Linked DNA regions of Homo sapiens: region 2 is linked to region 1. Evidence: fine-mapped expression QTL. A gene starts in region 1. The other region holds a variant in brackets. All regions are shown on one strand. Distances are between the middles of the regions. Region 1 holds the start of CNIH1 (cornichon family member 1). Region 2 has its middle 55 kb from the start of CDKN3.

Region 1 (16,115 bases):
AATGAAAAAAAACCCTGTGAAAACACAAGATGGGTGAATTTCAGAAATATGCTGAATGAAAGAAGCCAGACAAGAGTACATACTATATAATTTCAATGATATGATGGTCTAGAAAAGACCAATCTAATCTATAATGCCAGAAAGCAGATGAGTGGTTGCCTTGGCTGTGGGTTAGGAAGCACCATGGTGGAAATTTTTTGGGTATTGTAAATGTTGAACATTTTGATTGTGGGTGGGTGAGTGTATAATTTTCCATACACTCATTGACTGTGCCCTTAAAATGGGTAAATATTATTTTCTGTAAATTATACCTTAATAAAGTTGATTTTTAAAAAGTGAATGAACTGCTGATACATGCAGCAATATGGATGAATTTTGAAGAGAAAACCCCAAAAGATTATGCTGAGCCAAAACAAAGCAGACACCAAGAATACATATCATATGATTCCATTTAGTGAAGTTGAAGGACCCGTAAAACTCATCCATGGTACTAGAAAGCAGAACAATTGTTGCCTAGGGGGTAGGTCATGAGAGAACTTTGTGGGGTGATGGAAATGTTCTCTGTCTTTAGGAGGGAGGTTACGTAGGTGTATATGTGTATTGAAACTCCTTGAATTATACACTTAAGATCTGTGCATTTCACCATCTTTAAACTATGCGGCTTATGAAAGACACATACAAATTAAGAACAATAGCCCTGGCGTGGTGGCTCACGCCTGTAATCCCAGCACTTCAGGAGGCTGAGGCAGGTGGATCACCTGAGGTCAGGAGTTCAAGACCAGCCTAGCCAGCATGGTGAAACCCTGTCTCTACTAAAAATACAATAAAATTAGCCAGGCCTGATGCCATGCACCTGTAATCCCAGCTACTCGGGAGGCCGAGGCAGGAGAATTGCTTGAACCTGGGAGGCGGAGGTTGCAGTGAGCCAAGATCACACCACTGTACTCCAGCCTGGGGGACAGAGTGAGACTCCGTCTCAGTAAATAAATAAATAAATAAATTAACCGGGCATGGTGGCGGGTGCCTGAAATCCCAGCTACTCAGGAGGCTGAGGCGGGAGAATTGCTTGAACGTGGGAGGCGGAGGTTGCAGTGAGCAGAGATCGTGCCACTGCACTCCAGCCTGGGGAATAGAGCGAGACTGTCTCCAAAAACAAAAACAAAACAAAACAAAGTGACTTTTTTTGCACATATGAAATTGTTAAGTCATTTCTGTACATTAACTCCCTTCATCATGGTTGTGTAACAGGCACTCCCAGTGCAAAGGGCAGAATGGATGACACAGCCACCAATATTGAGAAACTACATCCTGCTGGGCAGCCTGAAGCTCTCTACTTGCATGCTGCCGTAACCCAAGGTTTTGGAAAGGTACATAGTGAGCAGAAAAAAACATGAACACATTGTCAGCTCTGCCACATACAGAAAATAACTGAGAATCACACATTGTTCTGGAGGGGCAGAGCTACCTTTTCTCAAAAAAAAAAAAAAAAAAAAGAGAATCCTGGGAAAGGCTTCTCTTCTGAGTATGTGGCATAGGGGGCATAAAGCCTTGAACAAACTCTGAGCTCTGCCAACAAGAAAGAAGTGGGAGTGGGTTTGGGAGCAACCAACACTTTCGGTTACGCATCCCATTTTCCCCAGCTTCATAACTATTCTTTCCAAGTCTTATGTCTGAGTCACATGTCTAGATCCATAGCCCACCCACAACCACCACTAATTACCAGGTGAAATTGCTTCTTCCCCAATTACACAAACATCTTCTGGAAGACTGGGGACTGATGACCTATAGTCTTCTGTGCCCAGGGTTCTTTCCTCTTGGAAGTGCCTCATTATTCAAGGCAAGGGCCCAGATCATCCGAAAGCATAGTGGATTGCATATGGCATTTGTAACTGGGATGAGATGTTCTCCTATTATTCTCCCTTTGTGGGAGTCCTCACTAGTTAGTTGGTTGAGGATAAATTTACACCAATGCAGAGCTTTCCCTTTTATGTTACCACCATGTCTCTGAGCATCCTACGCCCCCACCTGCCCTGCCCTTGGCACTGGAGGAGTGCTGGGCAGAGTGCCAAGCCTCACTCCCACCTGGATGATCAGTGGTGAAGTATGGCTTGCTGTCAATTGGCAGAAACCCCGAGCTGAGCTGCCAAGCAACTCCCTGGAGTTTGGCAAGGTGGTGCTTGTTTCCTTAGAGCCTTGCAAGTTTCTTGAGGTCACGTTCTCCTAACTGCTCAGCGCCTCCCCCTTCCCTTCCTCAATACCAGCTTTATCTAGTTGGGGGTTGGGGAGGGTGCTGGAAAATTTCTCAGATGTGTATCTGAACTTTTTCTGTGTATCTGAAGTTTTTCTTAGACTAGATGCTTTGTATTTGCGGGCTTTGTTTTCCAGGGCTCCAAGCAGCTGACTTGTGTCTAGCTGTCCAGATTGGGAACATGGCTAGTGGGGGCAGTGATGGTAAATTGATGGAAAGAATTTGAACAAAGGAATTTGAGGGAAGGAGGAGGGGAAAGAAGGAGGGAGAGAGAGAGAACAAGCATATAAATTAATCCTTCTTTGAAATATTATCCAGCCCCATTCATACATGCAAGTCAAAGCAGGAACTTAATTCAGTATTTACTGCAAAAGTACTCCCATGGGCTAAAAGAATTAACGCAAATTCCAAAGAATACTAGGAATTGTTTGAACACAGAGAGTATAGATTTCTCACTGTCTATAATGGTCCTCCAAAATGTCAAGTAAACTCATTATTTTCCTCACTACCTTGTCTATGGTTGGTTGATCCAACTAGCTCTTTATCCTCTTTCAAAAGGGTGTATTCTCTCACAGATTATAGCTGCTTAATATTGTCTAAAGTACTGCTGCCCAGTAGAACTTTCTATGTTGGAGGTATCCTATATCTATGCTGTCTAATATAGTGGCCACATGAGGCTATTGAATACTGGAAATATGAGCGCTGGAAATATGGCTAGCGTAGCTGAGGAACTGAATTTTAAATTTTGTTTTTATTTTTTAATTAAAAATTTTTTTTGGAGACAAGGTTTCATTCTGTCACCCAGGCTGGGGTGCAGTGGCGCAACCATGGCTCACTGCAGCCTCCAACCCCATGGCCTCAAGCAATCCTTGTGCCTCAGCTTCCTGAAGTGTTGGAATTGCAGGTGTGTTCTACCTTGCCCAGCTTAATTTAAATTTAAATAGTCACATGATTAGTGGCTCCTGTATTAGACAGCACAAGCCTAAAGTTTACCTGTGTGCTCTGGTAATATGTGAAGGGGGCTTCATCCTACTGCAGCTTATATAACTGTGTGAATCAGTCAGCACTCCACCTGGCATAGAACAGGTGCTCAACAAACCTTTGTTGAAATACCTAAAATGCTACCCTTGAAGAAAGTTGGTGGGGAACCTGGGTTTTATGTAACCGCTGTAGGGGTTGAGGCAGGCAAAATTTCTCTTACAAATTTCCTTTCTCCTCAGGTGAAATAGGGGTAGCCCCTTCTAATTAAGGGTGGGTGCCTGGGAGACAGTTTCATTCTATGAGATAAGGTGCTAGCCTAGTCAGCAGAGAAGGAAAACACACATTTCAAGTGAAGCCGGAGAAAAACTTGTTGCCAAAAGGTAGGATTTCTTGGTATCTGGTGATGAAACATCATTTCCCAAGTTGTAGATGGGATTCATCTGGAAAAAGGGGGTTCGATTTCATGGTTTGGCTTGAGTAGTTCCCTGCAAACTCTCTCTCCCGAGCCCAGAAAGCTGCATCTGCCTTTCATTAGATTGTGAGTTCTCTTGCATAAATATTGCCTGATGCTGCGTTCTGCCGTGCCCGTGGCCTTAAGTACTGAATTAAATATCATTTGCCTCCTTCTTCGCTTTCACCAGGGCATCCAGTTAATCAAGTTCAGCTGAGCTTGTCTCCCAACTACTATCAAGCATGTTTACCCCTTTCCTTCCCACCTTCCACTGCTCTAGTTCAGATCCATAGCAACTTTTGCTTGGACCATTGCCGTGGGACCCGATTTCCAATCTAACACTCCTCTAATCAGGGTCATTGTGCACAGTTGGGCAGTTTGTGCACTGCACATAGGTGCACGACCAGGGTTGGTGGGGCTGAAGTATAGCTTGTGTTCCTACACTCTGGGGTGGGCCTCTGTCCATCTGCAGAAAGTAACTTTACAAAAAATGTTATTGGATTTTATTATTTTAAAAAAGAAATAGAGATGAGATTGTGCCTGGAATTGGTGGGTTCTTGGTCTGACTTCAAGAATGAAGCCACGGACCCTCGTGGTGAGTGTTACAGCTCTTAAGATGGCGCGTCTGGCGTTTGTTCCTTCTGATGTTCGGAAGCGTTCGGAGTTTTTTCCCTCCTGGTGGTTCGTGGTCTCGCTGGCTCAGAAGTGAAGCTACAGACCTTCGCAGCGTTACAGCTGTTAAGGCGGTGCGTCTGGAATTGTTCGTTTCTCCCTGTGGGCTCGTGGTCTTGCTGGGTTCAGGAATGAAGCTGCAGACCTTTGTGGTGAGTGTGACAGCTCATAAAATCAGTGTGGAACCAAAGAGAGAGCAGTAGCAAGATTTATTGCAAGGAGCGAAAAAACAAATCTCCCACACCATGGAACTGGACTTCAGCGGGTTGTCCCCGCTGGCTCCGGCAGCCTGCTTTTATTCTCTTATCTGGCCCCACCCATGTCCTGCTGATTGGTAGAGCCGAGTGGTCTGTTTTGACAGGGCGCTGATTGGTGCGTTTACAATCCCTGAGCTAGACACAAAGGTTTTCCATGTCCCCACCAGATTACTTAGATACAGAGCATCCACACAAAGGTTCTCTAAGGCCCCACCAGAGTAGCTAGATACAGAGTGTCCATTGGTGCACTCACAAACCCTGAGCTAGATACAGGGTGCTGATTGGTGTGTTTACAAACCTTGAGCTAGATACAGAGTGCTGATTGGTGTATTTACAATCCCCGAGCTAGACATAAAGGTTCTCCAAGGCCTCACCAGAGAAGCTAGATACAGAGTGCACATTGGTGCATTCCCAAACCCTGAGCTAGACACAGGGTGCTGATTGGTGTGTTTACAAACCTTGAGCTAGATACAGAGTGCTGATTGGTATATTTACAATCCCTGAGCTAGGCATAAAGGTTCTCCACTTCCCCCCGAGACTCAGGAGCCCAGCTGGCTTCACCCAGCATATCCCACACCGGGGCTGCAGGTGGAGCTGCCTGCCAGTCCCGCGCCGTGCACCCGCACTCCTCAGCCCTTGGGTGGTCGATGGGACTGGGCGCCATGGAGCAGGGGGTGGCGCTCGCTGGGGAGGCTTGGGCTGCACAGGAGCCCATGGAGGGGGTGGGAGGCTCAGGCATGGCGGGCTGCAGGTCCCGAGCCCTGCCCCGCGGGAAGGCAGCTAAGGCCCGGTGAGAAATCGAGTGCAGCGCCGGTGGGCTGGCACTGCTGGGGGACCCAGTACACCCTCTGCAGCCACTGGCCCGGGTGCTAAGCCCCTCATCACCCGGGGCCGGCAGGGGCGGCCGGCTGCTCCGAGTGAGGGTCCCGCCAATCCCACGCCAACCCGGAACTCCAGCTGGCCCGCAAGCACCCTGCGCAGTCCCGGTTACCCCTCGCGCCTCTTCCTCTACACCTCCCTGCAAGCTGAGGGAGCTGGCTCTGGCCTTGGCCAGCCCAGAAAGGGGCTCCCATAGTGCAGCGGTGGGCTGAAGGGCTCCTCAAGTGCCGCCAAAGTGGCAGCCCAGGCAGAGGAGGCGCCGAGAGTGAGGGAGGGCTGTGAGGACTGCCAGCACGCTGTCACCTCTCAAGATCTCATTACCTTGTCCAGGCTGGTCTTGAATTCCTGAGCTCAAGTGATCCTCCTGTCTTGGCCTCCCAAAGTGTTAGGATTACAGGCATGAGCTGCTGTGCCTGGCCAAAAGTAACTTGATAATTTGCACACAGGTGCCACATAATCCTGGTGGTACAGGTTGTACTGTCCAATACACTAGCCACATTTTACTTAAAGTGATGTGAAATTTAAAGTTCAGTTCCTCAGTCATGCTAGACAATTTACAAGTGCCCAATGGCCACATGTGGCTAGTGGCTACTGTATTGGGCAATGTTTAGGTATCGAAAATTTTCACCATCACAGAAGGTTCTATTGCACAGCACTGGACAGACCCTGCTTCTAAACTATTCTACGCAATTTGCTAGGTGAACGATCTTTAATGCAAATCTAAACATGGTCTTCTTTTGCTCAAAAGCCTTCAATGATTTTCTCTTCCATCAGCAGCAATCAGTTAATAGAGTTTTTTTCTTTTAAAAATGGTTGTAATGGAAAGTTAAATCAATTTTGAATCAATTTTGTGTGTTAAGACCAGCATTAAAAACAAGTAGCAAAAGAGAGAAGGGAAAGTACTTATGGATCATTAGTACAGTTTTGTGAAATTTTTGTTTTGGTCATATCTATATTTCTTTGCCTCTATAACTAGATTTCCACCTCTTCATAACTTGATGTCTGTATGATATTCCACTGGGTTGCAATGAAAAAAATCTTTCTAGTTGTGTGTGGTGAGCAAAAAATTTGGGCTTATGGGATAAGAAGTCTGAGCTCCGTAATGAAGCATTATAAGGCCCTCTATGATCTGATCCCTTGCTAATTCATTTCTAAGTCTCACCACTGTCTTGCACTTAGGTTCCATTAATACAGAATTGCTGCTGGTTTCACCTGAGACACGAAGCTTTATTTTTCTTTTCTTTTTTCCATCTCTGTTGCGTTTCCTCATTCTGAACTGTTTCCTTGGACTGCCAGTTCTACCTTCTTTTTGCCTGGAGAACTTATCATCATCTAAGGCCAACTTAGGAAACACCTACAGCAGGAATCCTGCCTAAATGCTCCAGGGCGGGCTGGCTGTCCTTCTTTGACCTTTCAGAGCATCCCACACACATCCGTTTACGGGGTTATAATAACGTAATTATTTATTTAGGTGTTCATTTCCGGCACTATACTAAGTTCTTTCAGTGCAGGTACTATCTTATTCATCTTTGTATCTGAAGCGAGAAGCGCGGTACCTGTAACAAACTAGGCATTCATTCAATAAATATTTGTTGAAAGAATAAACGCAAGAAGGAAGGAAAAATCAATCAACAACTGTGCGGACAATGTCAGTGCAACGCAGACTCCGGCCATCAGAGGGCGCCGGGGCGGCTGGGCTGGTGCGCAGGCGCGCTGAGAGGGCTGGCGCCGCGGCGGTAGCGGTGGCGGTCGCGGCTGTGGCCGGGGGAAGTGAATGGTTTTACCCAGAGGGCCCTGCGCCGCCTTTCTCCGCTGGCAACGGCGCCGCTCCCCGCTCCTCCTCCCCAGCCATGGCGTTCACGTTCGCGGCCTTCTGCTACATGCTGGCGCTGCTGCTCACTGCCGCGCTCATCTTCTTCGCCATTTGGCACGTGAGTAGCTGGGGCTGGGGAAAGGAGGGCGAGGCGGCAACACAGCCTCTTTTCGCCCCGGGCCCGCGGTCCGGGCCGCCACGGCCGCCGGGGCTTTGCGCGTCGGGGATGCGGCCCGGCTGGCACGGGCCGCGCGGCGAGGGGTCTGGGGGCCGCGGGTACTGGAGGAGCCGGGGCGCGCAGTCGCCAGGTGGACGCGCCCGCGTTGCCTCGGCACAGGCCGCGCGCACCGCTACTCCTCCCCTACTGGATGGGGCGGCCGCGGTCCAGGCGGGCGCCCGCGGTTCCGCGCTGCGTTCGCACCGACCTCTGCCGGCCCGCGGCCCTGCATTCCCGGGGAGGATGTCGACAGCGCGGTGGGACGGCCGTAGTGTGAATGAAGTTTTCCGAATTTTTGTTAATACAGATTGACTTTCTTTTAGGGTTTCCACAGAACTGTGGCCAAAATGTAACCTACTTAGGGTGAATTTCCAACTCTACTTTTCAGCACTTGTTCGGTGCTCTTCAAATCAAATCACTTTTTTTCTCTTTTTCCAGATTGTTGTTTCCTGGTGAACTTTGATGCAAGTTCAATTGATTACTTTGTTGATTGCATGTGCGCGTTTCCCCCCCAAATCATACTTTGACCGCTGGAGTTTCAACAGGCAGCTTTCCAAGCCACCCTTATATTCAGGATTGCTTGATTTAGTAGAGGGAGTTTTCATTTGATTTTGAGATGCTCAGAAACCTTAAGCTTTTCTGGGGCAGTATTTATTTCTGTTACACACATCATCATCACTATTGCAGGGTGGAAGCACAGCCTTACTGGTCCCTCTAAGGAAAAAGTCGTAAGTTCCCTGTGACATAGTTCTACAGAGATAAGAATTTCTGTTGCTTTAGCACAAAATTAAAAGCCTTGAGAGCCTTCTGGAAATCATTCATTAAAAATTTATCTCATACTTGCTTCTCTTTTCCCCATATTCCAGTGCCTTCTGGAATGTTGCTTTTAATTTGAATGACCGCGTTCACTCTTACGTAGATTTTAAGTCAGGTTTCATCATGCCAGTAACAAGGATTTCTATGAAACATACGGAGGGGCAGAATGATTAAACAGCAGCAGCGTCTTGTGCAAAAAAGTCTCGAAAGTGGAAGCATATCACAAATCCATTCCTTTTTGCTAAGCAGTGTGATTATGTTTACAATTATTTTAGGACCTGACTGCTTATTGTAATCAGGAATACTTATGTAGGCTATTAACTGTGTCGGAAATAACTGCTACCTCAGAATGCTTGTCAGTAGGAGCAGTAATTTGAAGAGCATCTTCAGCCCTGCTTTGATGGAAGAACAATACCTAAGATAATTTGGGATACAGACTAGCTCAACCTTAGTAGGCCTCTGATGAAAATGTGTGGTTCCATGGCCGGGCGCGGTGGCTCACTCCTGTAATCCCAGCACTTTGGGAGGCCGAGGCGGGAGGATCACGAGGTCAGGAGTTCGAGACCAGCCTGGCCAACATGGTGAAACCCCGTCTCTACTAAAAATACAAAAAAATTAGCCGGGCATGGTGGTGGGCGCCTGTAATCCCAGCTACTCGGGAGGCTGAGGCGGAGGAGAATCACTTGAACCCAGGAGGCAGAGGTTGCAGTGAGCCGCGATGGCGCCACTGCACTCCATCCTGGGCGGAGACTCCGTCTCAAAAAAAAAACAAAAAAAAAGAAAGAAAGAAAGTGTGTGGTTCCATTCCATCTGTAGATGTAGCTTTAAGTCATTCTGCTTGATGGGTATTCCTTTTTTCTGGGATGATGGGGATTCTTAGAGTGGTGGGGTAGGCTTTTTCACATTTTTACGTTTTGAACCAGGTTGTGTTTGGCTTAAGGAAAACCTGAACCGCACTTTCAAAAAATGGGTAATTTCAGCTTAAACAAATGCGTGTCTGGGTGAAGTAAATAATTTTAAGTCGTGTTATACAATGAAAAAAAAATTATACCGCAGATTCGTGGAGAGCTTTTATGCTTAGGGATTTCTTCATTCAGAGAATTAGTATCCTTTTGGAAACAATTCTAAATAAATAGATAGTTTTAATTTTTCTATTACCCATATAACCTTATGTTTATCATCTTAGGTAGTATCTTAGTCCATTCCTTTATAGTGTTTATAGTGTTGCTATACAGGAATACGGGAGGCTGAGTAATTTACAAAGAAAAAAGAGGTTTATTTACCTCAGGATTCTGCTGACTATAAGACTGGGCATCTGGTGAAAGTCTCAGCCTGCTTCCACTCATGGTGGGGGAGTAGTGTGTGGAGATCCCATAGTGAGAGAAAGCAAAGGAAAAAGAGGGGGAGGTGCCAGGCGCTGTTTACAAGCCAGTTCTCTTGGGTCCTAATGGCAGGAGAACTCACTTATTCCCTCCAAGATGACACCAAACCATTCATGAGGGATCTGCTCCCATGACCCAAACACCTCCCGTTAGATCCCGCCTCCAACATTGGGGATCAGATTTCAACCTGAGATTTGGAGGAGTTAAACCAAACTCTAGCAGGTAGTTGAAGTATCTTTCAGAAGACTCATTTTACAATTTTTAAATTACATTCCAAAAATCTTATTTACATTAATCACTGTATTAGAGAATGTTTTTTATGCTGATGATTATATCTGTCAATTTAGTCCTAATTCATGTCATTGATGCTCTGTGGAGAATAGAGTCGGGAGCATAGATTGTTTGAAAAATTAAAAGCTTAAAAGTCATTCCTTAAAGATGTGTATTAAATTGGAAGGTATTCTGAATTGTGTACTTGGGCATCTTTAGGGATTTATCTGTTTTATTTTTGTTATACTTCTGTAGGAAATTTTGTGGGTGTCTTTGCTCAGCCACATAGCTGCAAAAAGATTTGAAAATCATTAAGAATATTCTCAGAAGAGGTTCGAAAACCCTAGCCTATAGCACTCAAAGAGAAACCCATTCAACAACATAGTTAAAAAATCCCTGTGACCAGGCACAGTGGCTCATTCCTGTAATCCCAGCACTTTGGGAGGCCAAGGCAGGTGGATCACCTGAGCTCAGGAGTTTGAGACCAGCCTGGGCAACATGGTAAAATCCCATCTCTACAAAAACTACAAAAATTAGCCAGGCATGGTGGCATGCACCTGTAGTCCCAGCTACTCCGGAGGCTGAGGCAGGAGAATCATTTGAGCCGAGGAGGTGGAGGTTGCAGTGAGCCGAGATTGTGCCACTGCACTCCAGCCTGGGTGACAGAGTAAGACCCTGTCTCAAGAAAAAAAAAAAAAAAACCCTTGAAGTCACCTGGAGAAAATGTCCAATTAAATGTCAGTTTTAAAGACAAGTTTTGTATTCTGTTAAGTTGGATCTTGTTATAGACAAGTACTTATGATTATCATCCTTGTCTTGAGCTTTATTACTAAAATGCATTGGGGTTATATACCACGGCTGACGTCAAGTAGCAGACTAATAACGTCCATAAGTAATCAGAAATTAGTATTTTCTAATTACACATGTATGTTTTTAACATTTGTGTTAGGTGTCATTAGCCAAGGGAAATCCCCCTGGTGAGTTCTGCATTTTTTTTTTTTAATCCCTAGTGCTATTTTTTTCACCCCCTCCTTCCAGTTAATATTTATTGAACACTTAACTATGTGCCAGGCACTATTTTATATTTTAGGCCCTGGGACATAATAGTAAATACAACAATCTTTGTTCTTTCAGAGATTACATTCTAATGTTTTATTATTTTCCTTCTATTGTTGTTTGGTTGGAGTTTTTATTAGGGCAGGTGGGTGAATTTTATGGAACTCTAGAAATTAAAAAAACCGTCTTTTTATGAATCTAAATTTTAACAGGGAAATAAACAGTCATGTTAAAAGATGGAAATATGTAACTTTACTGATTACTGATAATATTGAGCAACACTTTCACATATAAAGATACTATTCCTAACTCATTAAGGGAAGGGTAGCTTAGTTTGTGTGTCCCTGGGGTGAGTAGTGTTAGCAACTAAAATGGCTCCCCCATCAACTTGCTGCCTTTGTTTTCTTTCTTTGTCACCTGAAATGATGCCACAAAGTGGTGCAGAGTCCCTATTTTGACTCTTAATGTACATTCTAGTGACCCTTGAGGTTGAAGCCACATTCCTCCAGAGTGTGGACAAAAGCATCCTTACAAATGTATGTGTTTGGGCACCAATGGGAACACATTGAAGAGTTCGAATCCATCTCTAGTGTCCCACTGAGCACTGTGCCAAGGGAGGAGGAGCATGCACAGATAAATAAAAATGGTCCTTCTCCCTGAGAGTGTAGAGGGGCAGACAGACCTGTGTGTAAATACCACACTCCAGGGTGAGAAAAGCCATATCGATGGCATTATAGAGTCCCATGCTGTGTGGAGATGTGGGCAATTACTTCTGCCCAAAGGAGTTAGGAAAGCCTGCAGAAAGAAGTTGACCTAGGAAGGTTTGTTTTTTTTTTAGGATAAAGAGGAATTTGGATAAACAGTTGAAATTATTTTTCTACTCAGAAGATTATTTCGAGTAGAGATAAGTTGAAATAACTTGAGCAGAGGCATTGACGAAATTGAAAATTGAAGGTATTTATTACAGTAATACCAAATTTTAGTGATACTGAGATAAGAGTGTTTTCACTTTAAATCGCATTCTGGTTCTTTTTGTCATATATGAGTTTACTGTAAATTGGTATTTGGGATCTTGGTGTACTTTTGTTCTTGTTTTATTAACTTTAATAATTATTTGAAGATGGGGCAGGTTTGTTGCTGCTTTTAATTAAAGTGAGTGGTCCTAACTGTTTTAATTTTATTTTAGATTATAGCATTTGATGAGCTGAAGACTGATTACAAGAATCCTATAGACCAGTGTAATACCCTGAATCCCGTAAGTTATAATATAGGATTTATCTTTAGATTTTAAAAATATGTTTGTTTTTAACTTGAAGTAATTTGAAAATGGCCAGTATTCTGAGTAGCATAATATATTTGTACTTTTTGAAGTAGGCAGAATTTAAAAAATCTTCTTTTTCCTGTCGTGCTTGACTATTCTATTATTAATCTGCTGGTGATCTTGTCAGCTGTCATACTAACATTCTTCCAATCTGCTTTTTACATTGTCGGCCAAAGACAGTTGAAAAGGTCAAAAAGATTAAAAGAGTCAAAATTGCATTAAAGGTGTGTACTGCTTTTTAGTTAAATGTTTTAATGCTATATTCATTTCATGGGGAGGGTTAGGGCATTTGTATTTGTAACGTTTTGTTCAGTGTGCTCGTTCATATGCCTGTTGAGGTTTATGATTTCATGAAATTTCATATTTTATGCAAATATATGCTTGCTGGCCCAGTCAAGTAGGGAAAGCTGTTAAATGCGTATGCGTTTTTTTATGTTATAGCCATAGGCACTTCTATGTGAAATTATTTGGTGTAGTACTTGAAAGTTGGTTAACATAAAATGACTAATAGATGGTGAGATGATTCTCGGGTTGTGACTTATTGTGAGGTAGTATGTGAGTGAAATCTTTAGTATGGACTTATCTGCCATATCTAGTTTTATCTTTGGTTTGCATATTCTGGAATAAATGAGTCATTCTTTCAGCTGATGTTTATTCAGAGCCTGTTAGGTGGATAGCTCTGTTCTGGGGGCTCTGGGATCTCGCAGCAATGCCATTCTTTGGACTTAGGGTGCCATAATTTTGTAGATAACAATTTGTATACAAATGTCTATGTGGTTATTTCTAGTGTGTATCTACTTTCTGTTTCTAAAACAGGCCTGAATTACACTGAGTTCTGAGCCATCATGAATTTAGTGATAATGTAGCTCCATTGTGCTTAGGGTTTTTGAAAAAATATATATGTATGTATTTTTAAATTTTCTTTTGAGATGGGGGTGTCTCTATATTGCCCAGGCTCTTATCAAACTCCTGGGTCAAGTGATCGTCCTGCCTCAATCTCCTGGGTAGCTGGGATTACAGGCACACACCAGGGTACCCAGTTTGTTTTTTTGTATTTTTGCCTGCATTTAGGAAGATACTCTTTTAGCCTGTGTATTTGATTTTGCCTGACTGGTCAGTAATTGAAAGGTTGGTTGTTTATAAGAAAGCAGTGGGTATGTCTTCAAGAAATAAAATACAGTAATTCAGCTTTAAAAATTACTTAACGAAGGGGAGAGTTTGTGTAGATTTTAATTGTCTAGCATACTAGTGTACTAGCACTAGGTGCTAGAGGGATTTTATTTGGAAAAGCATCTAGAAAGTTAGTTTGGTACTTTATTATTGTTTCCCAGATAAATGTGGATGGTGGAAGAGATTTCTAGTTTGTCTTTAGAGAACTGTTACAGTAAGAGTTGATGTAGGTACAATTAAAAGTATTAACTTATTAGCTGTTTCTTTGCTCTTATGAAACAAGACATAAGAAGATGAATTTGCCTTCTCTTGGAAAGCATTAAGTGTTAATTTTAAAACATCTTAACCTAAGTAGTTGAAGTTGTTACCAGGAAATGAAGAAACTGAAATTTCCCCTTTTGATAGCTGTTTATTAATAGTATTCTGTGCTGTTTGTCTTTTCATTACTTCAATAACCAAATGATGATGAAGGTAAAAATATTTGAAATCAGATGAGGATTTTCCTGGGTGCTAGGCTCTGTGGTAAGCACTTTGCCTGAATTTTTAAATTTAATTCTCATGACAATCCTGAGGTAGGTAAATTGTTATCTCATGAATAGGAGAGTAAACTGAAGCTTTGCCAGGTTAAAGCACTTTGCCGAATGTTATACAGCTAAGATAGAGTCAGAACTTGAACTCAAGACAGCCTAATTTTTGAAGCTCAAGTTCTTGTATTTTCCTAATGTATTGTAAATTTAGGAGGGACAGGTTTCATTTTAACAGGTAATGTGCGATTCCTGGCTTTTCTTAACGGAAAGAAATTCTCACTGAGAAGAGACATGTGCTTGGGACATCCTAATGCTGCAGGAGGTTGAAGGACGTTTTTATAGCAGCACAGGTTGCCTTTTGGATAGGGTGCCAATAATTGGCTGAATAGCAGTGCATCTGACAGTTTTCCCTATTTAAATTTGTTTTGACAGTTCTGCCAAAGTATGGGGGAAGACAAATATCACTATTTTTTAAATTGTGAACTTTAACAAGAGAATATTATATTTTGCATGTTTAAATGTTATCATTTCAGCCATATTTGCTTGAGGTTTTTTTTCTGGATACTAGTTTCTGTTTGAACCTTGGTTCCTAAATTGAATAATTTTTGTGTCTCTTATGGGGAAATTTTGTCATTAAAGAATGCTCGGAGAGGGTTGGTTTTTAAGAGAGATGGGTAGTAAATGTTTCTGGACTCCTTTTGAGGAGAAGGGAGGGAATGGCATTGTTTCATATTAGAACTGGTAGAGTTGTAGATTATCTTTATTAACACTTTTATTAAAGTAATATTAAGAGCGGGAGGGGTTCATGCTTTCAAAATCATTCTTTCCATACTTCATTCTGTAAGTGTAGGATAAAACCTTGCATGAGGATTTGTTTGTTAGGTATCAGATGGCTTTTTAGGGCTGAAATAGGCTTATATTTTAAAGACAACGTCTGTAATTTAAACAAGTATTATAAAAGCAACTCTAGTGGAATTCTTAATAAAATGTATATTTTTCTTGGTTTGTTCTGGTTATAGTCCTTGAGTTTCAGAGTCCTATGGCCCTTTTCTTGTTTAGAGAACTTTGATCTTAAATAGATGCTGGCTTAAATGTTATTTAGAAGTTTAGGTACATATGCCGAGTTTATCCTTTGTTATTGTATTGCTTAAGTTTGTAGAAAATATTTGGTTAGTGGTGTAGATGAGTTGTTTACCTGGATTTTTTTTAAAAATAGTATTCATTAGAAAGTCCCCTCTACAGCTTTAAATTGGAAAGAGTAATTTGGGAGTATGAGAAAATGGGTCTGAGTATGTAGTGTGATTACAATATCTACAGCCATGGTTTCCCCTCAGGAGTGATCTGATGATGATAAGTATTCATATGATTTCCATTTGGTATGAAGTAAACATTTGAGAAACTGGCTTTGTAGCTGTGACTTACAGGAGATACTTCGGCTGAAACTTGCAATGAGAGGTTTTGGTATTTTTATTTAACAAAGTCCTCAGGCTGAAATCTTTAGGATGAGAAAGATAATTTAACATAAAGCATTAACTCCTGGTCATTTTATAAAAAGCATTTTGCTCGAATTAATTTTTCTTCACTTAATATTACCTAGTACCAAAAGGTTTATTTTGTTTTTGGGTTCTGAGCTTCTACTGGTCTTCTGTTGTGTCTGTAGCATTTTGTTGGCAAGCAGGGGTAAAGAAACGGAAAGGCCACCTAAGAATGAGAACTTGGGAACCTGGAAAATCTTAATTTCATGGTTAAGAACTCAGTCTTTTCCCTCCTACATTGCAGAAAGCGAATCTTTTACATTTGCGCATATTAGTGTTCTTCCCCTCACTGTGCTGAGATTATTGGCTGATTGGCTTTCCATTAAAAAATTACTTCTGTGGGAATGCAATGTGGTTTGCTAAATATTGTGTATGTAGCATTTCTGGTTTTTGTTAAAGGCTTAAAAACACTGATATGTAAAATTCCAAAGGGGAGTTTTGTTTCTGTGGAATTTTTAATATGTTGCATGTGATCAGATATCTCATTTTTGTACTTCTATCATTGTTGAATGGTGAAAAG
Region 2 (16,115 bases), 98 kb after region 1:
CCTCTTGGCTTTCAACCAGTTAATTATTTGTTGGATTGCTTTTCAGAGTACTGGCTGCCTTCCCTATGACGTGCTGCCTCCCTTCCCGCTGATCATCTTACTCTTCTGTTCTTTGCTATTTTCAGACACTATTTTGCACTCATTATGCACAAGTTCAAACTTTAGTCATGTGAAGAGAGCTGAGTGCCTTGTCTAATTTTTCAGCACCAAACCAAATAAACAAAAAACGCATAAAGTCCATTTAAAAATATCCACACTGCATCAGGGAACAGAGAAGCTTTTTCTCTCTCATGTGAAATCTTCTCCAGGAAACCACCAGGACTGAGGCCCCCATGGCGCACACATGCTTGCTTTAGGTGCTTACGTTAAGATGGTATTTCATTAGTTTTGGATGGTCCCTTCCACAGAGCTCAGATGCTATGCTTCTTTCTATTTTAAAAGGGGGGACGAAAAGATTGGCTTTTCATCCAAAATACTCATGTTCTTCTAGCATATTAAAATTCATTTGTGACTAAGTCATTATAGTGAAGTACTTGGAAACCTTTCTATTCTAGAGAGTTCTGGGCACAAACACATTTACAGTGTGCACTAATGCCAGGCTCATGTCCTCACGTCCTCCAAGGGACAGGGATGAGCTGGGTCATAAACCAAACAGTGGGACTCTGGCAATCCCTTTTAGCTCAGGCAGATGCAAAATTGAAGACCCAAAAGAAGCCTTCCAAAGGTCACAGCAGGTTGCTCTCAGGAAAAGAGAATCAGTAATTTATTTTTAAGCAATCTCTTAGCCTCTGTGACAGTTATGTTTCCTTGTAAGCTGCTTTGGAGCCACTCACCACTCTGAAATTGCAGAGTAGGCTACGAACAATCCGGCTTCGTAAGAACATGCAAGTGAGGACCCACGAGGAGATATTCTTGTGCTTTTTAAAGTGCTTCTCTCACTTTGCTTCCTAAACTGCCTTAATTGAGGCAAGGGAGCCAACATGAGTGAGTTCCTTCCCGCGGCTTGCTCTGCCGTGGAGTTCAAGGATGCCTGAGCCCTCAAAACACGGCGCGGTGCAGTTGGGCTGATGGGAAGTCCTGAACAGCTTGCTGAATTATTACTTCATTCTCGGCTGAAGCAGCAGGAGGCGAGATGATGAGTGAAGGAAAAAACCCATGGACTCCAGCGTGGGCTGAAGGAACCAAAACAAACACTGAGAAGACAGGCCAATACTGAAATCTGTTTCAAGGATGGAGCGCGCAGGAATGTTTCACCATATTTTGTCTAAGGAACAGATTTCATTTTTTAATGGCTGTATTAATCAGTGGAAGCAGAACGGCAGGAAGGAATCCGTTTTCCCCTCTCCCCAACGCCTCCCGTGGCTCGCCCGGACATTCCCCCCATTCTTTGTACTGAAGGTGGCCTGGAAGTTTTAGAGGCGTGAGACAGGTTCTGAACTCGCATGCCCTTTCTTTCTCCTTCCCGAATAAATTTTGCGTAAGAATATTTGGGACAAGGAATCCACCATGGCGGGGTGCAATAAAAGCGTTTCACAAATTATGATTTCCCATTCTCTAGGCAGTTCAGCTCTGCCTAACAGCTCTAATTTCCTAGACAAATAGTCCTCCCTGTCCTCTCCAGCTGCTCACAGGCGCCTCTCTCTGGGTATTCTTTTTAAAATCCCTCTCCTGGGGAATTTTTAAAAAAGCTTCTCGCACTTTTTCATGCGATTTTCATGGTTCCATCCATCTCCCCACTTTTTTGGTCAAAGCCTTCCTCCCAAATATCAATTGCTTTTTCAACCCGTCCATACTACTGCTCAGCTGTTGGTTGAGCTTCTCCTAGCCTCCTGCTGCTGTCACTGGGCCAATGGAAGCCAGTCCCTTGCCTCTTTGTTCTATTATTTTATGGCAAGATAATAAACTTCTACATTTTTGAAGTACTTTTCACCGACTTGATATCAAGTATTTTGATAATCACAAAGTGATCAAACACATGTTCTCTTTTTCCAGTTACATAATGAGATCAAATATTGATTAGCAGTGAGTAGATAGATGTATATTGTACACACACACATACACCCGACCATCCTCCTTTTGGCCTATGGAGACTGTTACTCCAAAGAGCCGACACATTTGTGTTGACATTTCAGTCATCCAAGAAAGCTGCCAATGTCACTTCCTTTGAATATTTTCCTTCAGTTTTCAGGAAAGAGTTGGTGGGACTAGCTTATCATGGATGGCATGAGCTGAGGGGATGGTAATTTTTCACAAAAGTAGACATTGTTCGAGGCTAATAGTAAGCTGTAATCTAGACTCATAACTGTAGAGGGCGCTCTTGACTTAATAATGACAGCATTGCCATTGTCACTCCAGGAAGCTGGGAGGTGACAGAGTATCCTTTTATTACCAAGTATTTTATGGGGAAAGAGAGAAGGTGCCTTTTGGAATAGACAAGAAATCCATATTGTTTCATATTACCTTTTATAACATGTCTTCTTAAGAATAAGCTCATCATCTAATTCGTAGCCCCTGGTTACAGTTTTGTTGAAAGTGCAGAAGCTTCCAACTAATGAGAATGAATCTCATCAATGTCTCATACCTTGTGTTGGTCCTGCCACTTGGTAATGGGTGCTTTGCGTGCTGGGAGCTGGGAGCGATCTTCCAAAAATGGCAAGTGGGGTGGGCACTCCTTTGCGGAAAAGCCTTCTGTGGGTTTCAATTTCATTTAGCATGAACTCCCCACTTCTTACTGTGCCCTACCAAGGCCTTCTAGGATATAGCTTCTTCCTACACTTCAAGCTCTCTTTCTCTCTTCCTTCCCAGGGGCCGAATCTGGGACAGCACATGGACCTTGCCAAGCGGGGCACACTCTGTGGCATCTGCATTTGCTCTTCCATCTGCACAGTGAGCTCTTCCGTGCATCTTCCAAAGGCTGGCTCCTTCCCATTTCTCAGTCCTCTGGTCATAGAAACCCCTTGGAGGGAACTTTTTTGACTACCTCATCTAAAATAGGCCCGGCCCCAGCCAGCTTTTCTTTTTTAATTAAAAATTTAATTGTGATATAATTCACATAAGATTTCACAAAACACCACATTCACCATTTAAAAGTGTACGATTCAATGGTTTTCGGTATATTCACAATATTATACGGCCATCACCACTATCTAACTTCAGAACATTTCCATTGTCCCCAAAAGAAACCTCATACCATGAAGAAGTCACGGCCCACCTCGCATTCCTCCCAGCCTCTGGCATCCACTCATCTACCGTCTTGTCTGTATGGAATTGCCTGTGCTGGGTATGACACACCCACTTCTTTTTAAATGTTAAAGCACCCTGTTTGTTTCCTTCCTGGCATGGATGTATTTGCTCATTTACTTGTTTACCATTTATTCTCACAATCTATGAATAAGTCGCAGAGTTTCTTCACAATTCAGTCTGCCCAGCCTTAAAGTGAGCCCAGCCTTTCACCATAGGATCCAATCTATGTGGTGGTGCAACCACTTCTGGGGCTACTGTGGAAGAGACTCGTCTGTGGTAGCATGCCCTCCAAGAGTTCTTGAGGGCTCTATATCTTTTGAAGGATTTTCTGCTTTTCACTTGCAACCCACAGAGTCATAACTGATTTAATCACCTTCTTCAGAGTACTGCGTGCATTTGTAGAAGACTCTTTAAGGCCTGGGCTTCTTGCTGCAGCAATAAATACCAGTAACCTTTACAGAGCATGGGCCGTATGTCAGGCACAGGGATATGTGCTTCACTTGTATTTTTTCCACTTGGTTTTATTACAGTCCTGTGAAATAGGTATAATTATTGCATCCCATTTTAAAGATGAGAGAATTGAGGTTAAGGGAATTGGCACATTTTACTCAGCTAGTTTGTGGCAGAGTGGAGACTGGAGTCCCAGCAGTTAGACCTCCAGGGCTCATGCTCTTAACTATTCTGCTCTTTCTTCAGCCTCTCAGACTTCAGTCAAGTGTTAGCACGAAGTGACGGTGTGATGTTTGCATGCGGCATATGAATATTATTGCTCCTGGTAAGATTGTTTACGATGACATCATAGACAAAGAAATGTTTCCTTGAGTTCCTAGTATAGCAGCTGAGCAACAGTTTTTGTTATATGGGATTCTTTTCTGCCCTTTAGTTTGGGAAGTGACCAGCAAGGTGTCCTGGGAATGCCAGGGGGCTGTATAAGTCTTTGCGCATGGATGAAAGGAAGAGGCATGAGATGGAAGCTCATGCTTCCAGAGCAGATGGCCCTTGGAAGAACTTGGTTTCCTGCAGGAGGGTTGACTCCCAGGAGAACTACATCTCAACAGCTTAGCCATGTGTATTAGTCAGAGTTCTCTGGAGAAATATAACTAATACATGATATGTTTTATATATATATGTGTATATATATGTATATATATATATGTGTATATATATGTATATATATGTGTATATATGTATATATGTGTATATATGTATATGTGTGTGTATATATGTATATATGTGTATATATGTATATATATTCATATATATGTATATATATGTGTGTATATATATGTGTATATATATTTAAAGAGATTGATTTTTGAAGAATTGGCTTATGTGATTACAGAAGCTGGAAGTCCCAAATTTACAGGGTGGACCAGTAGGCTAGATAACCTGGGAAGAGCCAGTGCTGTGGTTCAAGTCTGAAGGCTGTCTGCTGCAGGATTTATACTTGCTCAGGAAAGGTCAGTCTTTTGTTCCATTTAGGCCTTCAGCTGATTGAATGAGGCCCACCCATATTATGGAGGGCATTCTGCTTTACTCAAAGTCCACTCATTTAATGTAAATCTCATCCAAAACCACTTTCACAGAAACATCCAGAATAATGTTTGACCACATATCTGGGCTCTGTGGCCCAGCCAAGTTGATATAACCATCAAGGTGAGGTACTCAGTGCTCAGGTCCAGTTCACCTAGGATCTAGGCTGGAAGGCAAGGAGGGCAGTGTTGTTGGGAGGGCATTCTACCTCCTACAAGGTGAGGGGAGTCTGGATCTCATCTACTGTAAGGGATGACCAGTCGGCTCTCCAAGGGTGGTTCTGGTGGAGAAAGATGTGTCTCAGCCATCTTGAGTTTGCCCGGAGACCAAGCACTTGTCAGAGACCCACCTTTGGGTTGGTGGGTAGAAGAGCAGATGGTCTTTGCACTTTCTCACTGGGTGGATCTCAGGGAGTAAGTGATTATTCACCCACAGAAGGCCCACTTGGTGCTAGCTTGAGCCGTCTCTGGATTGTATTCATCCATTCAACAAATACCTGCTGACTGTTTATTACATGCCAGGGCTCTTCTAAGTAGTGGGGATACAGCAGTGAACAGACAAAAATCTCTGTCCTCAAGAAATTTACATTCTGGGAGTGAGAAGAGACAGACATCTAAAGAAAATAAAGAAGTAAAGTAGTATGTTGTAGACCAGATAGTGATAAGTGCCATGAGGAAAAATAAAGGTGAGAGAGGAAATGGGGAATGCCGTGGTCAGTGGGGTGGGGGTTAAGGGGGGTAGGGGTTAGGGGTGCTGGTGGCTTGTACTGTGATGTAGGGTGGTCAGGGAAGGCCTCCCTGTATAAAAGGTGCCTTTTGAGTGAAGAGCAAGTCATGAGGATAACAGGAGGAAGGGAACTCCGGGCAGACGGCACAGCAAGTGCAAAGCCTCTGAGGAAGGACTGTGGCTGCTGTGTCTGAGGACCCCAGAGGCCAGACGGCCTGGGACAGAGTGGGGAGGAGGAGCATGGGGGGAAGTGCAGTGAGAGAAGACCAGGACCAATAGGAGGCCAGAGGGAGTGGGGCCCCAGCACCACTGTGAGGCCTGGCTTCTAATCTGAGAGATCCGGAAGCCAGTGGAGGGGTTTGTGTGGAGGAGTGACACGGTCTGGCTGCTCTGCTGGGACAGACGGTGGGGTGTGTGTGGGAGGGTGGAGGGGAGAGCCGGGCAGAATCAGGGAGACTCTTCCTGGAATCCAGGGGAGAGATGGTGGTACCAGGGACCAGCGTGTTGGGGAGAAGTGGCTGGGTTCTATATCTGCCTGGAAGTTCAGGCTGAAAGGATCTGCGGCCTAGAGTGAGGACTGTGAAGTGTGTGTGTGTGTGTGTGTGTGTGTGTGTGTGTGTGTGTGTGTGTTGTTGAACAGGGGAGGTTTAAAATGTACCTTCCCATCCAGCCCTCTCCTGCACAACCTCACATCAAGGTTGGAAGGGGATGGTCTTTAGACTTTAGGATTTCTGCCCTCAACACGAGTGTCTGAGAACTGCCTTTGGGGGCTGTTGTAGGAGGTGAAACCAATTTGATCATAATGGGAGAGAAAACCCCTCCATGGCCCAGGGTGGATTTACCTGATCACCCATCTTTCCCGGTCCTTGGTGCCGTGTGGACATCTGCGACCCAGTGGCCACTCAAAGGAAATGACCTCATGAGCGTGCCTTTCAAGCCACACAGGATGGATTGGAGTGCGACATTTGGCCGGTCGCTCTGGTTTACACCAAATGCAACAACTTGTGGCCTGCAGATCCTCAGTATAAATAGCTGGAAAAGCCTGACCTTGACAAGCTCATTTCTCATTCCTTTCTTGTTACAGGTAATAGAGCTGAAAATGTGGTTTTAATTATAGCACTAATGAAAACTGAAAATCCAGACAGACACTTGATGAACTCTGCTGCGCTTTATATTACATTTGTGCTAACTACAAAGTGCCCAGCTGGGTGTAACATGATCCCCTTTCCTCGAGCATCCGCCTGACTGAAGCTGTATAATTGATGTGTACTTTGGCAGGAGGTCAGCTTAAAGGGTTTTTTTTTTTTTTCTTTAAGATTTTTTTTTAAACATCTTTAACGGTACTTTGGGGAAAGGGGTACGTTTATTACCTGGGCTGGGAGAACATTTCTCTGGGTTGCCTGACATGCCCCACCCCCATTCCAAACTTCTTCTAGAGCATTCCGTACAGCACCTTCAGGAGAAGCTCCAGGGCCAGAAATGAGCTGAGAGACTGACTTTAACTTGGAGCCCTGTAACTTTGTTGTCGGCCGGTGACTTTACCACGCAGCCCTCCTCTCTCTATTCCTACCTGTCAGAAGGACGTGTTCAGAGTCTCTGTAAGGGACAGTTTCGGTAGCTGTGACATGGAGGCTGTGACCCATTGGCCTTGCATGCTGGCCTTCGTGTGCTGCACTGCCTCTCTCCCCAGGCCATGGGGCTCCTTACACGTAGAGGTGCTGAATAAAATACAGGATGCCCAGTTATATTTGAATTTCAGATAAACAGCAAATGCTTTCAAATTATTTTTGTTTATCTGGAATTCAAATGTAACTGGTCATCCTGTAGTTTCATTTTTGAATCTGGCAACCCAGCTCATAGAGTTTCTGTGGCTGGACAGGGTCTCGGAAGGGACTTAGGAAGAATTCCTGCCCTGACTTAGAGACAATGTAAGGTTAACTCTGCTTTAGCTAACCACAGACCTTCATCCACATCCCATCAGACTACCACAT[C/T]GCGCTCTCACCCTGCTCCTTAGGCCACACCCTGCATTCACTCCTGTGGTTCTAGATGATTGGAATTCATGGCACAGCCAACCTCAAAAACAATGAAAGGTTCTGTAAAGGCCCACTGGTGATCATGGTGTCTTTACTGGCTGGGTGGGTGGCCAAGTTACATAATCTCTTTCTTGTTTAGTTTGTAATCTTTTTGTTTTTATTTACATTTTTGAATGGGTAATCTATTCATATTACTTACAGAGATTTCAATAAAACATGAAAGGTATACAGTAAGAAGTCTCCCTTTCCCTTTTCTTGTTCAGCCATCCAGTTCCTTCTCTTGTAGGCAACACATACTATTAGTTTCTTATTTTTCCTTCTAGAGATATTTATGCATAGATACACAAATAAGTATATATCCTCCCTCTTCCCGATTTCTACACAGCTGTCAGCATATTGGACCCACTGTGCTCATTGCAGTAAAAGCGTCTTCTTTTCTTCACCTCCAATATCTTGGAGATCTTCTCATACCACAGCATAAAAAACTTATTATTTTTTTAATGGCTGCATTGTGTGGTCATATCATTATTTATTTATTTATTTGAGACAGGGTCTGGCTCTATCACCCAGGCTGGAATGCAGTGGCGTGATCTCAGCTCACTGTAGCCTCGACTTTCTAGGCTCAGGTAATCCTCCCACCTCAGCCTCCCCAGTAGCGGGGACTACTGGCATGTGCCACCACCCCTGGCTAATTTTTGTATTTTTTGTAGAGGTGAGGTTTTGCTATGTTGGCCAGGCTGGTCTTGAACTCCTGGGCTCAAGCAATCTGCCCACCTTGGCCTCCCAAAGTGCTGGGATTATAGGTATGGGCCACTGTGCCCAGCCCCATCATTTAATCAGCTTCCTTTTGATGAACATTTATGTGGATTCCAATTGTTTGCTGTTACACACAGCAATGCAGTACATGCATTATTTGTATTTATGTGAATGCCTTAGGTTAAATTCCTAGATACGGAGCTGTTGGGCCAGAGTACATGCATACATTTGTAGTTTGCCAAGTTGTTCTCCATGTTAGTTTCCCATAGCTGCTACAACAAATTACCACAAATGCAGTGGTTTTAAACAGCACAAAATTATTATCTTACAATTCTGGAGGCCTAAAGTCCTCAAACCAAGATGTGGCAGGGCTGTGCTCCTTCTGGAGGCTCTAGGGGAGAATCCATTTCCTTGCCTTTTCCAGATTCTTGAAGCTACCTGCATTCCTTGGCTTGCGATCTCTTCCTCCATCTTTAAGGCTGGCTGTGTGGCATCTGCAAATCTCTCTTTCTCTGGCCACTGCTTCTGTTATCACAGCTCTGCTGGCTCTGACACTCCTGCCCCACTTTTGTAAAGAGCATTATGATGATATTGGGCTCACCTGGATAATCCAGGACACACTCTCCATTTTTAGATCTGCAACTTTAATCACTTATGCAAAGTTCCTTTTGCCATGTAAGGTAATATAGTCACAGGTTACAGGGAGTAGCATGTGGACATCTTTGTGGGGTCATTATTCAGATGGCCACACTCTCCATGGAGTTTGTCCCAATTTAAACTCCCAACACAGCCCTAACTCGCAGAATGTGCATTCAAAATTTCTGAATCTTTACCAATCTGAGAGGTTAAACAAATGGCATCTCCATGTAAATTTTACATAGCATTTTTCCTTTTATGGGAATGGGGGACCTATTCTTTAAGAATCATCTCTTTTTTGCTTTCTTTTTGAATGTCTATTCAAATACTTGCTTATTTGTCTATCAGGTTGTCAGTTGCAAAGTGATTATATGTTGGTGAGAGTAGATGGTGTTTCTGAAAAACAGGTTGCACTTTTTTTTTTTTTTTTTGCAGTTTGTCATTTGTTTTCACTTTGCTTTTAAAGGCTTTTTCACCATGTAAAAGGCTTTAGTTTTATGTAGTTGAATTTATCGAATTTATCTATGGCTTCTGGGTTTTGTGTCATAGTTACAATGACCTTCTCCACCTCAAGGTAATAAAAGAAACAGTTTCTTTTTAAATTTAAGTAAACAGAAAACATACAGTCTTTTTTGAAGAGGTAGAAAATACAGATTGACAATAAAAAAGAAAAGCCACCTAAAACATATACAGTATTCTGTGGTATATTTTATGTAAGAGGGGCCTACAACATTATGCTTTGTTTGAATGTGGGAGCAAGGCAGTGGGTCACTGAAGCTGGCCCACATTCAAGGGTAGTTGAGCCTATTGTGAGCATCTCTTCCCAACACTATGTTTGGTAACATCAATTTGGGAGTTTGAAATTAATCCTGTTGAGGGTGTTTACAGTATAGAAGTTGGCAGAAGCTACAAATCAGAGCTTTTTTCCCTAGCGAACTAGTTGTGAAACATTTACCAGCACACCACTAGGGCTAGAGAACTTGTTTTCAAAGCTTTTTTTATTTAAAAAAACCCAATAACTCAGTTTACTTAGGGTTTTTTGTTTGTTTGTTTGTTTGTTTTCTGTTTGAGAATAACTGAATGGCTATTGGTAGGACTAATAGGGATTGTATGTGGGTAGCTTTAGATCAGTGGTGCTTCTGTGCATGAGTGTGTGCAAACACACACATTTACTAGACAATCACGTGGTGCATTAAGTCTGGTGACCTGTTTTTTTTTTGTCTCTTTAATGGTATTGTAGCCATCTTTCTACCTCAATAAATATTTATCCGAATCATTATTTTAATGGTTGCATTTTATGCTGCAAAATGATTTATTGCATTTTGACCAATCCCCTGTTGAGACACTTATGAAACTTCTGTATGTCTCAGTTTCCCCCTCCAGTTGCTAGATGAGGCTATTCAGTTCTTCTCAAGGATGTTGGGATTATCAGTGAGAAAACTTTCAAGGAGTGCTGTGATACCCTCAGATATGGGAGATCTTTCCAGTGTTGGCATCACTCTTCTGACTACCCCCAACTGGGCAGGCCTTTTGGTATAACTAGCTCAGACCCCTTAGAAATGTAAATTCTGGAGCTATCTATGTAGCAACAGCAGCTCAGGAAGAGCTGAGCTAAATAATGGTAGCACTTAAGATGTGGATCCCAAAACACAGAAGCCCTGCCATGAGACAGACAGGGAAGGTGACAGTTAAGTCATAGATAACAAGACGAGGACAAATTCCATCAACTCACTGTGAAGTTTCAGACAGGCCAGCGGGAATGGAGGATTCAGGGTGGGGGATAATTAGAGAAGATATTTTTGGGCTAAGAGACAAAGTGGAAATGACATTTCCTAGTTAGCATGGACTAAAAAAGTGCCACACAATAAATCTTTCTCAGATTATCTTTTTTTTTTTTTTTTTGATCTTGCTCTGTCACCCAGGCTGCAGTGCAGTGGTGTGATCATAGCTCACTACAGCCTCAAACTCCTGGGCTCCAGTAATCCTCCTGCCTCAGTCTCCCAAGTTGCTGGGACTACAGGTGCATGCCACCATGACTGGCTATTTATCATTATTATTATTATTTTTTTTGCAGAGACAGAGTTTCTTAGGCTGGTTTTGAACTCTGGCCTCAAGTGACCCTCCTGTCTCGGCCTCCCAAAGTGCTGGGATTATGGGTGTGAGCTGCTGTGCCTGGACTGAATATCTTCAATTCTGTGTTTTGGAGAATTTAAGAGAAATATGAGAAAGGAATGAGTAGACTGATTTTAGTGAGGAAAAAATTGGACATTCTTTAAGTTCATAAACATCTTTGAACAACCACTTTGCCAGACATCAGCTTGATTTTGTTATATCCAGAACCACTGGCTACTGGTGATGCTTTTGATGATGAAATACAGTATTACTGCACTCAATTTAGTCCACAGAGTTATGCTGTGATGTTATTTGAATAACGTAATTGCTCTGAGTGGGATTACCATCTACTAAAGGGAGGAAGGTGCTCTGAACATTTTCAACAAGTGCTAAGAAAGATTATTAATATGTAAATTTAAAATTAGTGCCTACACTGAAGGTTTGAAAATACTCTTTCGGTGTTTCCTTGACCTTAAGGACAAACAGGCACTACCAAGGTGAAATACCATAACCTACTCTGGTTTTTGATTTCTTAAGACATGTTGTTGCCACTGGAAGGCAGTGTTGCTTAGCCACCGTGTGCATCCAAGACATTGGGCAGATCTGAAGGTTTGTCCTGAATTTGCAAGGAATCCTATTGAGCTAAAGAAGCGCTTTTCTATATGCCTCTTTTCAGAATCTGGCAAAGATCACGGGCTGCTCATGGATGCACCTTGCTTGTCGGGTGTTTCCTTTAAGCAGGAGTGTTGACTTTAATTATGTGAAATCAGCCTGTATGTACTAAGCTGGTGAGCCTTGATTCCCTTTGGTCTCCACCTTTCTCACTTGTGAAATGGGACCATCAGTCCTCGAAACCTAACAGCATAATGCAAACACAACACAACACAACAGAACAACCAAACAAACAATGGCGGGGTTTCCATACAGTCACACGAAAACTGACCAGTTGATCAACGAATTATAGAGGTATTCTTTCAGAAATCTCACTTTGACTATTGACTCTCATTAGACAAAATTATTTCATGATTATCCTAGTTTTTTTTTTCTCCTATCACCTACCATACTCAGTAGAATTCTAGGTAAATCATGAGTTTTCTCAAAGAAAACTGATTTAACAATTAAACACATATTCTTCCTGCATTTTTTTCTCCTTATCAACAAATCTTCAGGTAGGGTTTTGATTTAGAAGCACACTTCAGGATGCAAATTAGGGAGTACTCTCTTGATTTTTTAATAATATACGTCTCCCCTTTAGACTATTAATAGTAACCTTTATCTTTGTACAGTGGATTCAAAATTTAAAGCCTTTGAATATATTTTCTCATTGAATTCTCCTAACAGTCTGTGAATTTGGTAAGGGAGGAATCATGATTTCTATTTTGATGCTCAGGAAACAAGTTCAGGTTGAGTGAAGCTCCCAAAGCCAATTAATCAACTTCTGGTTTTAAACTGTGCTTTCCCTCTTCTTTGTATACACTACGTATGAACAAAGGACCTTCGTGACACAGGCTGTGGTGGGAAGGCTGGAATTATAGGCTTTTATTCACAGCATTTTTTGGTCCCATCTTTCTTCCTTCAGTTCATAGACAAGCTTACCTCATTTTGGTTTTGTCAATAAAGGGTCAGCACAGCATCATTTTTCATGGACTTATGGTGAATAAGGGGCTCCCTATGTTAAAAGCTTTTCTGCTTCTTAGGGGGCTTTAATCTAAAGAGTGTTTCTGCAGAGATGTCTTTCACCTGAAAGACTGTGGATCACTTTTCAAACGCGGAATTGTCTTATCTGAAATACATTTCTACCTGTGCTGAAAGACACAGGCATAATCAATGCCTTGATCATAGGAACAATCTTTATCAAAAGTGCTTTAGATCCTGAAGAGCCTAAGGGTAAGAGAGAGAGCGGCCCTTTGCTGGTGTCAGAATGTGGTCAGGAGCTCAGCTCCCTCGTGGACTCGGCTCGATGCAAGGTTTCAGCAAACGCTTCGGAATCCCTCTAATCCCTTCCGTGTTTTCAGCATCAGGTAATTAACATATTTCTAGATGCAGGTCACTTTAGTTCAATTGTTGCCTTTATATCCTGCAGCGGCTTAGTTTTAGTGTCATTTTAAAAACTGAAAGCTGCAGTGTACCAGGTAGTGAATTAGTTAATGAGGATTCTTTTGTCTATTATACTGGCTATCAATATGGATTGAAAGTTAAATTCACCTTCCTCATTGCCCTCCAGCAAAGTTCATGAATGAGGAATAGTCCCTCAGAAGCTGCTTAAAAAATCAAAGTCAGACTTACTATTAATACCAGTATTCAGACATAGTTGGTAAGACCTATAAGGTAGGTCCTTTTATCCTTGACTAATCCAGCTCAGAGCTAGGAGTTTTGAGAAGACTAGATAGATGGATCACAGCTGACATTCTTCTTTTTATGTTAACATTGTACCATGCTAGTGAAGTCTCTCACATTGTGCCTATATAATTTAATAATATATCACACACATATAACTTTTAATTTAAAATTTTAATTTTTCTCTTTTTTAAGGCAGGGTCTCACTGTCGCCCAGGCTGGAGTGCAGTGGCACGATCACGGCTCAAGTGATCCTCCACCTTAGCCTCCCAAGTAGTTGGGCCAACAGGCATGCACCACCACACCCAGTTATATTTAAAAAAAATATATTTTGTGGAGACATGATCTCAAATGTTTCCCAGGCTGTTCTCAAACTCCTGGGCTCAAGTGATCCTCCTGCCTTGGCCTCCTGAAGTGCTGAGATTACAGGCATGAGTCCCTGCACCCAGCCTTAAGATATTTTTAATTAAAGTTTTAATGAGATAGTTTTAGATTTACAAGCAGTTATAAGAAATAGTACAGAGATGTATTAGTCCATTTTCATGCTGCTAGTAGAGACATACCCAAGACTGGGTAATTTATAAAGGAAAGAGGTTTAATTGGTTCACGGTTCCACATGGCTAGGGAGGCCTCACAATCATGGTGGGAGATGAAGGAAGAACAAAAAGATGTCTTACATGGTGGCTGGCAAAGAGAATTTGTGCAGGGGACTCCCCTTTATAAAACCATCAGATATCATGAGATGTATTCACTATCACGAGAACAGCACAGGAAAGACCTACTGTCATGATTCAATTACCTCCCATGGGGTCCCTCCCATGAAACATGGGAATTAAGGGAAGTACGATTAGAGATTTGTGTGGGGACACAGCCAAATCATATTGAGAGAGATACCACATAATCTTTGCCAGTTTCCCTCAGTGGTAGCATTTTGCAAAAAACTATAGTATAATATCATAACCAGGGTATTAACAATAATACAATCCACTGATCTTGTTCGGACTTCCCCGGTTTTATTTGTGCTCACCTGTGTGTGTGCATATGTGCATGCATATGTGTTCATGTGCTTAGTTCTGTACAATCTTGTCATGTGTGTTCATGTTTCACCACTACTTCTAGACCCTGAACAGTTCCATAACTGCAAGGATCCTTCACATTGCTCTTCTATAGCCACACCCACCTCTATCCTGCCCATGCCCTCACCTTTCCTTAACCCCTGGCCACTACTAATCTGTCCTCCATTCCTAAAATTTTGTCACTTCACAAATGTTTTATAAATGAAATCATACACTATGTAATCTTTCAGGATTAGCTTTTTTGTTTTTGGACTCAGCATAATCCCTGGATAGTCATTCCAGTTATTATGCCTATCAATAGTCTGCTCCTTTTTATTGCTGAGTCATATTCCATGGTATTAATGTACCACAGTTTGTTTAATCATTTACCCATTGAAAGACATTTATGTTGTTTCCAGTTTTGGGCTATTATGAATAAAGCTGCTATGAGTATTCATGTACAGGTTTAGCATGAACATAGTTTTCATATATCTAAAATAAATGCCCAACGTATACATCATTTTAAAGAATAAAAGGAGTAGAATTTTTATGCTACCTTCCAGAAGTTATATTCTTCTAAAAGATGATTCACTTCAGCTTGTTTAGAGACTCCATACTTGTAAACACCATGAATATTTATTATTTCTATCTTGTCCTAGGTAAACAGAAAGGTTTTTTGCATGAAAATAATTTGGATTTCAGTCAATTCATTATGTGGCTATTTCATGGGGTGATGAGGTATTAGTAATTAAAAAAGAAAAAGGAGGCACAGGCAGAGTTATCACCTCCTGCTTTGCCTTGCCACCTCTAAACTCTGCCAGTTATATGAAGTCCCTCTGTGGCTGTCATAGGACATTGTGGTCATTTGTTTTCACACCACACTCCCCACCCTGCTGGTCTCTCAATTCCTTGAGAGCAGGGATCCTGTCTTAATTATCTCAGTAATGCAGAGTAGATTCCTACAAAATGTTTCTTAAAGAATGCATTCCTTTTGTGCATAGGATATTTTATAAGTCATCTAATATATTTAATTTTCATTGAACTCATTTGATTAGAAATAGGAAAAATGTACCTTAATATTTTCCAATTATGTTATTATGATCTTATATACGAGAAGGAATTCCTGATTAAGACCATGCTTCATAGAAAATTGGAGAGTAGTTTAATATGTGTTAGGGTGAAGGGAATTTGTTAAGCATGGAAGTGATATAATCTAGTACTTCACCTGAGATAAACTAGATGGAAAATTCAACTTTTCCCCATGTAACGTCAAAAAATGACTTAAGCCAACAGTAAGCCCAAACCTGCATTTTGTAGTGTGATTAGTATATGTGTAAATGTAAAAATTCTCTACATTTTGACAGTTGAAAGATATTTAATGTCATTTTAATTCAGGCTTATACAAGGGAGGATTTCAGCAACACTCCTTGGAAGCCATAGCTATCACAACAGAAAGAGTATCAGAAGTCTAGGTAATTTTATTTTTACCATCAGTGGTTTGAGTTTGGTATTTGATTTTGAACTTCATGGTAAATGTGGCATTCCTGGTATTACTACCGTAGCCTTTGTATATTACATTGCTTTGGTCCACAATCAAGATGGTAAAGCTCAACAGTCCTGGAGCCCACAGTTAGGCTTTATTCATAGAAATTAATTCAACTTTAAAATATCTATATGGTAAAGA

The links.
Region 2: its variant is fine-mapped to the expression of CNIH1 in substantia nigra (GTEx, PIP 0.97).

Annotation. Positions count from the first base shown.
Region 1 is chr14:54,432,551-54,448,665 of GRCh38, reverse strand. CNIH1 (cornichon family member 1) reads left to right here and starts at 7,292. Exons shown (of 5, transcript NM_005776.3): 1 at 7,292-7,419; 2 at 12,229-12,297. The coding sequence starts at 7,339. RefSeq lists enhancers at 6,949-7,008, 6,885-7,683 and silencers at 7,089-7,358, 7,399-7,758, 7,769-7,818.
Region 2 is chr14:54,334,390-54,350,504 of GRCh38, reverse strand. No RefSeq gene overlaps it. Among named protein-coding and RNA genes, the nearest start is that of CDKN3, 55 kb to the left of the region's middle. RefSeq lists an enhancer at 10,267-10,788. The variant C/T (reference allele first, on the strand shown) is at 7,494.